Homo sapiens: one gene and its partner. The protein of the gene in region 2 interacts with the protein of the main gene of each other region in a biochemical or structural test. Each region holds a gene or a part of one and is shown on either strand. Other genes may lie near its edges.

Region 1 (3,752 bases), on a different chromosome or scaffold from region 2:
AATGAGATTAATGCTCTTATCAAAGCAAACAAATATCATCTAGGAAAAGTCCCCTTCTGAGCACAGTTTTCCAACTCATCTAAGATAATAATAGTAAATAGTGTAATTCTTATTAAAAAAACATACCACGGAGCTGTTGGCATCTGGTAGGAATTGTCCAAACTCTGACAACAAATCTTCCTGGTTTTTAAAGAGACGAGCAACCTGGGCATACACCTCCTGCTCTGTCAATGCTGGAGTGTAGTTTCCTCCAGCTTCCTTGGCATTTCTCTGCTCTTTCTGAGGAATTGCAAATGAAAAGAGATCATTTGGGCTACTGTTTTGAGTCACTCATCTTTGCACGCTTTCTGGAATCACTGTTATCTATTTAGGCTGCATGTAAGAAGAAAGTCTATGTTCTTAGCACCCGTTCTGACCACAGACTTTCAAGTTGAGAAAAAAAAAAAGTTGAAGATGGTGGATGACAATTCCTTTCAAAACTAGGGTAGTAAATATTTTTGAGACGGAGTTTCACTCTTGTTGCTCAGGCTGGAGTGCACTTGTCTCGGCCTCCCAAAGTACTGGGATTACAGGCGTGAGACACCATGCCCGGCCTAGGGCAATAAATATTAATGCCCAGGGGACCACTACCAACTGACAAAACCTTAGAAATTTCTCCTCCTCCTACTGTACATTAACTAGACTATATAAATCACCATCTAACTGTCCCAGATAAAACTGAGTTTCATTTCATGGGACAGTGACTAACAATCCTGACTGAGGCCGGGCACGGTGGCTCATGCCTGCAATCCCAGCACTTTGGGAGGCCATGGCGGGTGGATCACCTGAGACCAGCCTGGCCAACATGTTGAAACCCCGTCTCTACTAAAAATACAAGAAATCACTTGAACCCGGGAGGTAGAGGCTGCAGTGAGCCGACACTGCACTATTGCACTCCAGCCTAGGCAAAAAGAGCAAAACTCTGTCTCAAAAAAAAAAAAAAAAATCCTGACTGAATGTTGCAGGGCAATCAAGTCAGGCAAATAAAACTGGCTTTATAGCATGGGGGCGGTGGCTCACGCCTGCAATCCCAGCACTTTGGGAGGCCAAGGTGGGCAGATCACAAGGTCAGGAGTTCGAGACCAGCCTAGCCAACATAGTGAAATCCCATTTCTACTAACAATACAAAAAATTAGCTGGGCGTGGTGGGCGGAGCCTGTAATCCCAGCTACTAGGGAGGCTAAGGCAGGAGTATCACTTGAGCCCGGGAGGCGGAGACTGCAGTGAGCTGAGATCGTGCCACTACACTCCAGCCTGGGTGACAGTGCAAGACTCCGTCTCGAAAAACAAACAAACAAACAAACTGGCTTTAAAAACATGCATGATAGTTTCTAACTGGTTAATTTCCAGTATGAATTAATGGACACAATAATGGTTACTTGTTATTGGACTAGATGCCCTAAGAGGGTGACCTGGTTAAGACAGGCTGAATGGGCACTCCTTACCTGATATGTGTGCAAAATCTCCAGGAATGCTTTGTAGATGTCTGGTTGGCCCTGAAATCTGTTCTTGATCTTATTAACATAGTTGATGGCATGATTAAACTCCACAGGTTGATTGTTCTGCAAGGATGGGGCCGTTCCCAACGAGATTGTCACTGGTGTGTGAGGCTGGACCGGCGGAGAACGTGGGGATGCATACGGTGGAAGTGGGGGAGTCTGCTGACTGGCCGGAGTATGTGCTTGCAGTTGGGAGGGCTAGAAAGAAAAGAAATCTTTATTCTCTTCAGATGCATAGATGAGTTGATACAAGGAAAGTTCAAACTAAAGAGAAACAAGGTGTCAACGTATATCCTTTATTTACTCACTCAGGCCAGGTCATTTTAGTCCAACACAAATCATACTGGGCAGCAGTGGGAGTTGTAGGCGGTTCAAACATGCTGATACAAATATTTCAGTCTCACATTTTCTAAATAAAACCTTAAAACTGGAGCCATCTCCAATTACAGGGAAGAATTTTTCATATGCAATGTTTTAGCTTAGTAGCTCAACAAGTACACATAGAAAAAATCTCATTCTACATAGCCTTTTGATGTCAACAACAAGACAACTGTTGCAGTAGCTCCACATAAAAAAGTCTTCTACGCCAACTCTGTCCTGTAGAACTGAGATGATGGAAATGTCCTTTATTTGCACTGTCTTATACATAGCCACCAGCCACATGAGGTTACTGAGCACTTGAAAGCTAGTGCAAATGAAAAACTGAATTTAATTTAAATAGTCCTATGTGGCTAGTGGCTACTGTGTCAGACAGTGTGGTTCTAGACCAAGAACACCCCATCTTCATCACCATCACTATCACTATTCATTAGATCTTCTACTTAGCTTGATATAATCTAGTTAGTGAAATAACTTTCATAAAATAACCATGTGGGCAGCAGCACAATTTGACCAGGATAAGACGATGGTTTCTATCTGTGCTGTCAACTACTACTACACAAAGTCACCACCTGTTGGGATGTTCATGGTTTTATAAGCAGAAACTGTAAAAAGAAAGACCTTGAAAGTTGTTGCTGTGTTGATTTAAATAGATACCTAAGTAAGTGATGTGTAAATGTGAACCATGTCATAGTGAAGTTTTCATACAGCATTTTTCTATGACGAAATCTTTGTAACTTTGTTTCTCAGTATCTAAGTCTTATATAAAGGGGAAACATCAAAGGAAGGTGCTCTCTAGGGATGCATTCATATTGATGCAATATTTTCCAAGTGCTCACCTTGCTGACTTTGGCAGGTGGGGGCTGAGGAGCTGGCTGGGCAGGAGCTGGGGCTGACTGGGCTGAAGGCTGGGAAGGATGTTGGGGTGGTGGTTGAGGCTGTGGCTGGATGCCATGGGTGGGAATCTGATGAACCTGGCCAGGAGTTGTCACATTCACCATGTCATTGGTTTGCACCTCAATTTTGTAGCCAGGGGGCAAGAAGGTGTTGAATCCCATTATCAGATCGGGGTGGCCTTTGAATAGCTGGGACACACGACTAATCACTCCTGGGGTGTCGATGCTGATAAAAAACAAAAAGAAAAGTGATAAACTGTAAGCTTAACAAACACCCTGTTAAGAAAAAATTTCATGTTTTTTTTTCTTTTGAGACGGAGTCTCACTCTGTTGCCCAGGCTGGACTGCAATGGTGCAATCTTGGGGTCTTGGCTCACTGCAACCTCCACCTCCCGAGTTCAAGTGATTCTCCTGCCTCAGCCTCCCAAGTAGCTGGGATTACAGGCATGCGCCACCATACCCGGCTAATTTTTGTATTTTTAGGACAGGTGGGGTTTCACCATGTTGGCCAGGCTGGTCTCGAACTCCTGACCTCAGGTGATCCGCCCACCTTGGCCTCCCAAAGTGCTGGGATTACAGGCATGAGCCACCTCACTCAAAATTTCACTTTCTACTAGGTTTTCTCTAAACAGGAAAACAGATCATCTACGCATTTTAAAATTAACACACGAACTCTGAAATTCCAAAGCCATTTAGTTTTAGACTCAAAGATACTTGGCCACAATTTGTTTTTTTTTTTTTTGAGACAGAGTCTCATTCTGTTGCCCAGGCTGGAGTGCAGTAGCACAATCTCGGCACACTGCAGCCTCCGCCTCCTGGGTTCAAGCAATTCTCCTGCCTCAGCCTCCCAAGTAGCTGGGATTACAGGCACCCGCCACCATGCCCGGCTAATTTTTGGAATGGTCAAAATTTTTAACAGAATATATGTTCATTGTAATAA
Region 2 (3,752 bases):
CACAAGCAAGCTCCAGGACTTCACTGCCCCCAACTTGGGAAACTGTGGAAGACCCTTCACTTGTTTTGTCTTTTGACCTCAGGGAAAACAGTGGCCCACATTTCTTTTTCCAATACAAAAAATAATGTGGATGGGCACGGTGGCTCACGCCTGTAATCCCAGCACTTTGGAGGCCGAGGCGGGTGAATCACTTGAGGTCAGGAGTTCGAGACCAGCCTGACCAACATGGCAAAACCCTGTCTCTACTAAAAAAAATACAAAATTAGCTGGGCGTGGTGGCACACACCTGTAATCCCAGGTAATTGGGAGGCTGAGGCAGGAGAATCGCTTGAACCCAGGAGGCAGAGATTGCAGTGAACTGAGATCGTGCCACTGCACTCCGGCCTGGCCAATAAGAGCGAAACTCCGTCTAAAAAAAAAAAATGTGAAGGCACTCTGAAGTGGTAAAACATCATATGCATATAGGGATTATTAAATATATCTGCTCTTCTAATCTCAGAACCAAACACAATCTAACTTTACAACTTCCCAACCTTCATAACAACCTAATTCAATGTATCCTAATTCTTACTCTAACCCTTGAGTAACATGAAATTACCCTAACCTTCACTTTCAGCTAATTGGACCAACTTACCCCTAATTCAGGACTCATATACAGACATCATTTTGCATGTCACCTCTGAACTACTGGTATAGCTGCCTGGAGGGCTGATGGGGGCTCACTGGAAAGTGTGCTGGGATTGATTAGTAATGTCTGCCTTGGCCTTGACTGATGGCCCTCAGGCCACCTTGACTGGGGTGTGGTGGTCCTCAGGCCACCATACCAGCTCTTAATAGAACCTCTTCTACTCTTTGATTCAGCCTGGGATCATCCTCACTTAGGCTTCTCTAGGAGACTATCTGCTTCCCACCTCCGCCCAGGTCCCAGAGCCAGCTCAGGCCCCTCCCTGGCCTTCGGTACCTGTGTGCACCCTATAGTGCGTCTCCAGCTGATGCTTGAGGCTGAACTTCTTGCCACAGCCATTGCACTCGTAGGGTTTCTCACCCGTGTGGATGCGTTTGTGGCTCTTGAGTGTGCTCTCATCCCGGAAGCAGCTGCCACAGAACTCACACTCGTAGGGGTGGTCGCCTGTGGAGACAAGGGGCTGGATCAGGCCTTTGCCTCTCCCTGCCCCCTCTTCAGGGGACAGTAGGGCACATTCTGTGCATGAGAAGGATGCGACGGCCTGTATTCACCACCTCCAAAGACAACTTAAGGATCCACGGCCACACCTCCATTGAATAAACAAGCAATACCTGTCTTCACACATGACCATACTTTACTGTGGCCCCATGATCATCTGTGGGGCAAGGGCCAGTCCTGGGAAAGAGAGCCCATTTGGTTCAGGGATGGACAGCAGTCCCCAGAAAGCAAGCCCCCTTGTGGATACATGAGACCTCACCATCTTGCTTCTCAGATGACCTCTTCTCCCCTTCCTTTAGGTTAAGGGTGAAAGTCACTCCAGCCTGACTCCCCAACCTTCAAAGAAATCTCTCCAATTTGAGGAACTTCACATTGTCCCCCAAACACCTTCTACAGTCCCCAATTTCCTTCCTCCACAGTCTTACATAGCTGTTTCCTCTGCTCGATTTCTTCTTTTCTCCCTGGTGAACTCCTAATCATCCTTCAAAGCCCAGCTCATATGATACCCCCGCGTGGACGCTTCCCTTTAGTTCCCCAGGCAGAATGAATCACACTTTCTTCTGTGTCCCCAAAGAGAAGAAATGCCCAGAATTTTGTTCTGTTATTAGTGTGGTATCATTTTTATGCCACTTTCGCATTAAAATGGGCTACATTTCCTGAGCACTCAGATGTGTGATGTGATCGCATCAGATGATCATGGCAACAAACTTAAAGAAAGATATTAGTCTCATTTTACAGTTGAGAAAAAAATGAGATGCTTCCACATCATCCCTAAGGTGAAACGGCAAGTAAGGAGCTGAGTTGGGATTCAGGTTTGGGTCTGGCTCTAGAGTCAGGGTACCATATACTTGTCAGCTTGCTGACACACTATGCTGTATCTACTGGCTTGCCCACCATACCTCCAGCATGGAAGCACCACCAGGATAAGAAGCAAGCCTCACCCATCCTTGTAGCCTCAGTGTATCGCACAGGGAGGATCCAGAACAGACCCAGGAAATGGTGGGTCTATGAAACTTGGAGAGAACTGCCTTTTCTTTTTTGAGGATCCCACTCTTAAATCTCCAGAGCATGAGAGGTTGGGGTGTGGAGAATAACCATCTTGCCTTTCATATCCAAAGTGGGGGGCTTGGGGGATGAAAGGTGAGGACTCCAGCTACTTATTTATTACAGGAGTGAAGGCGCAGACAATAAAGATAGATTGATCACCCCAGACTTTGTTCATGAATATTTAAATATCGCTGATTCGTCTTGTCACTGTAATTACAATTTCTCTGGGCTGCATCTCCAACAACCACAGTTTATGGTAAAGAATGGCCCACTGTATTTCACTTGTCCCTCTGCAGATGTGCGGGGCTGCCAACCGTGTAATGTCCTCTGCATTTCATACATTTTCTTCAGCTGCTGAAGGTTTAAGTCATCCACAATGACCTACGTTTTTGCATTATCCCCATGTCAAACTGCGCTCGTGCCTGGGCATAAATTGTCCTTCTCGTTATAGACTCGCATGCCTGTGCCTTCACTTCCTTTTTAAAATGATATTTTACTCTCTCCTGTCTCTCCCCTCCTCGGGCCACTAACCAAAGCTCCCCCCTCCCAAAGTTAGGCCCCTGTACCCACATAAATTCTCATCTGTTCTGATGGCTCTGAGGGGTTTTTAGGGCTCTGAGGGGAGCGGATGCTGGGGTCTGATCAGTGACTTTCTCATGGGTGGAAGATTTGCAAGAAGCACCCATGCCATGAGAGGGGCACTTCCATCAGGGAATCAGATGAGAGAAGCTCAAAGAGTGGCATCGTGCCTTGACACCAGTTCACCCCAATCTATGGGGTGTTGCACTGGCTCAGAGGCTCGGCCAGCGAGTCCCTCACCTGCAGATCTGGGGATGGGCCAAGGCCCAGGGTTCTCAGTTGGGGAAATTGCTACCTGCCCATCCTCACTGCCAGAGCCATGCGGACTGCCTGGCCCCCAGCCCCATCAAACTCAAGGGAGTGGAGGCCTGTGCAGACCCTGGTACTAATTAGTTGTGTGTCTAACACAGTAAGGGCCAGTCTGTGTGTGCACCCGAACCCACTCTCTCCGTGTGTCTGCACTCACAGCCCTGTCTGGTCTGACATCCAACTCCCCCTCCTTACTGAATCGGCAACGATTACGACTTTAATCAAAGATTCAGTATCCTCATTAAGGTATAAATAAATAAATAAAGCCAAGGCCACGTGAGACTTCAGCTGGAGCCGGTAATTAAAACGTACATCGGCAGCCACCCAGCCGGGTGGGGGTGAAGGCGGCGGTGGGGGGGAAGGGGGCGGCTGCCTGTGCCTTTCCCCTCCAGAGGGGTCCCTAACAATTTAAAAAACAAAGGGTTAAGACAGAGGAGTTTGTTTGATCCGATTTTTAGGAATTTAATTATGAAGTGGAGCACATGTTAAATGAGTTTAAATAGGAAATTCTTGAGTCTGCCCAGGGAAAAGAATAAAAAGAACTTAGAAGGAAAAACAAACAACAACAAAAAAAAAAGAAAGAAAAAGTCACCAACACACACGTATCCCCATCCCGATTTGGAAGCACGGTGTG

What was found. The genes of interacting proteins can lie anywhere in the genome.
Region 1: the proteins of ZBTB16 (region 2) and SIN3A form a complex in vitro, tested with the Homo sapiens proteins (3 studies listed by BioGRID).

What each region holds. Positions count from the first base shown.
Region 1 is NC_000015.10:75,410,008-75,413,759, forward strand, and holds part of SIN3A (paired amphipathic helix protein Sin3a), read right to left. Parts: intron 3,039-3,752; coding exon 2,756-3,038; intron 1,737-2,755; coding exon 1,485-1,736; intron 280-1,484; coding exon 127-279; intron 1-126. UniProt on the Homo sapiens protein: Acts as a transcriptional repressor. Corepressor for REST. Interacts with MXI1 to repress MYC responsive genes and antagonize MYC oncogenic activities. Also interacts with MXD1-MAX heterodimers to repress transcription by tethering SIN3A to DNA.
Region 2 is NC_000011.10:114,244,575-114,248,326, reverse strand, and holds part of ZBTB16 (zinc finger and BTB domain-containing protein 16), read right to left. Parts: intron 1,130-3,752; coding exon 962-1,129; intron 1-961. UniProt on the Homo sapiens protein: Acts as a transcriptional repressor. Transcriptional repression may be mediated through recruitment of histone deacetylases to target promoters. May play a role in myeloid maturation and in the development and/or maintenance of other differentiated tissues.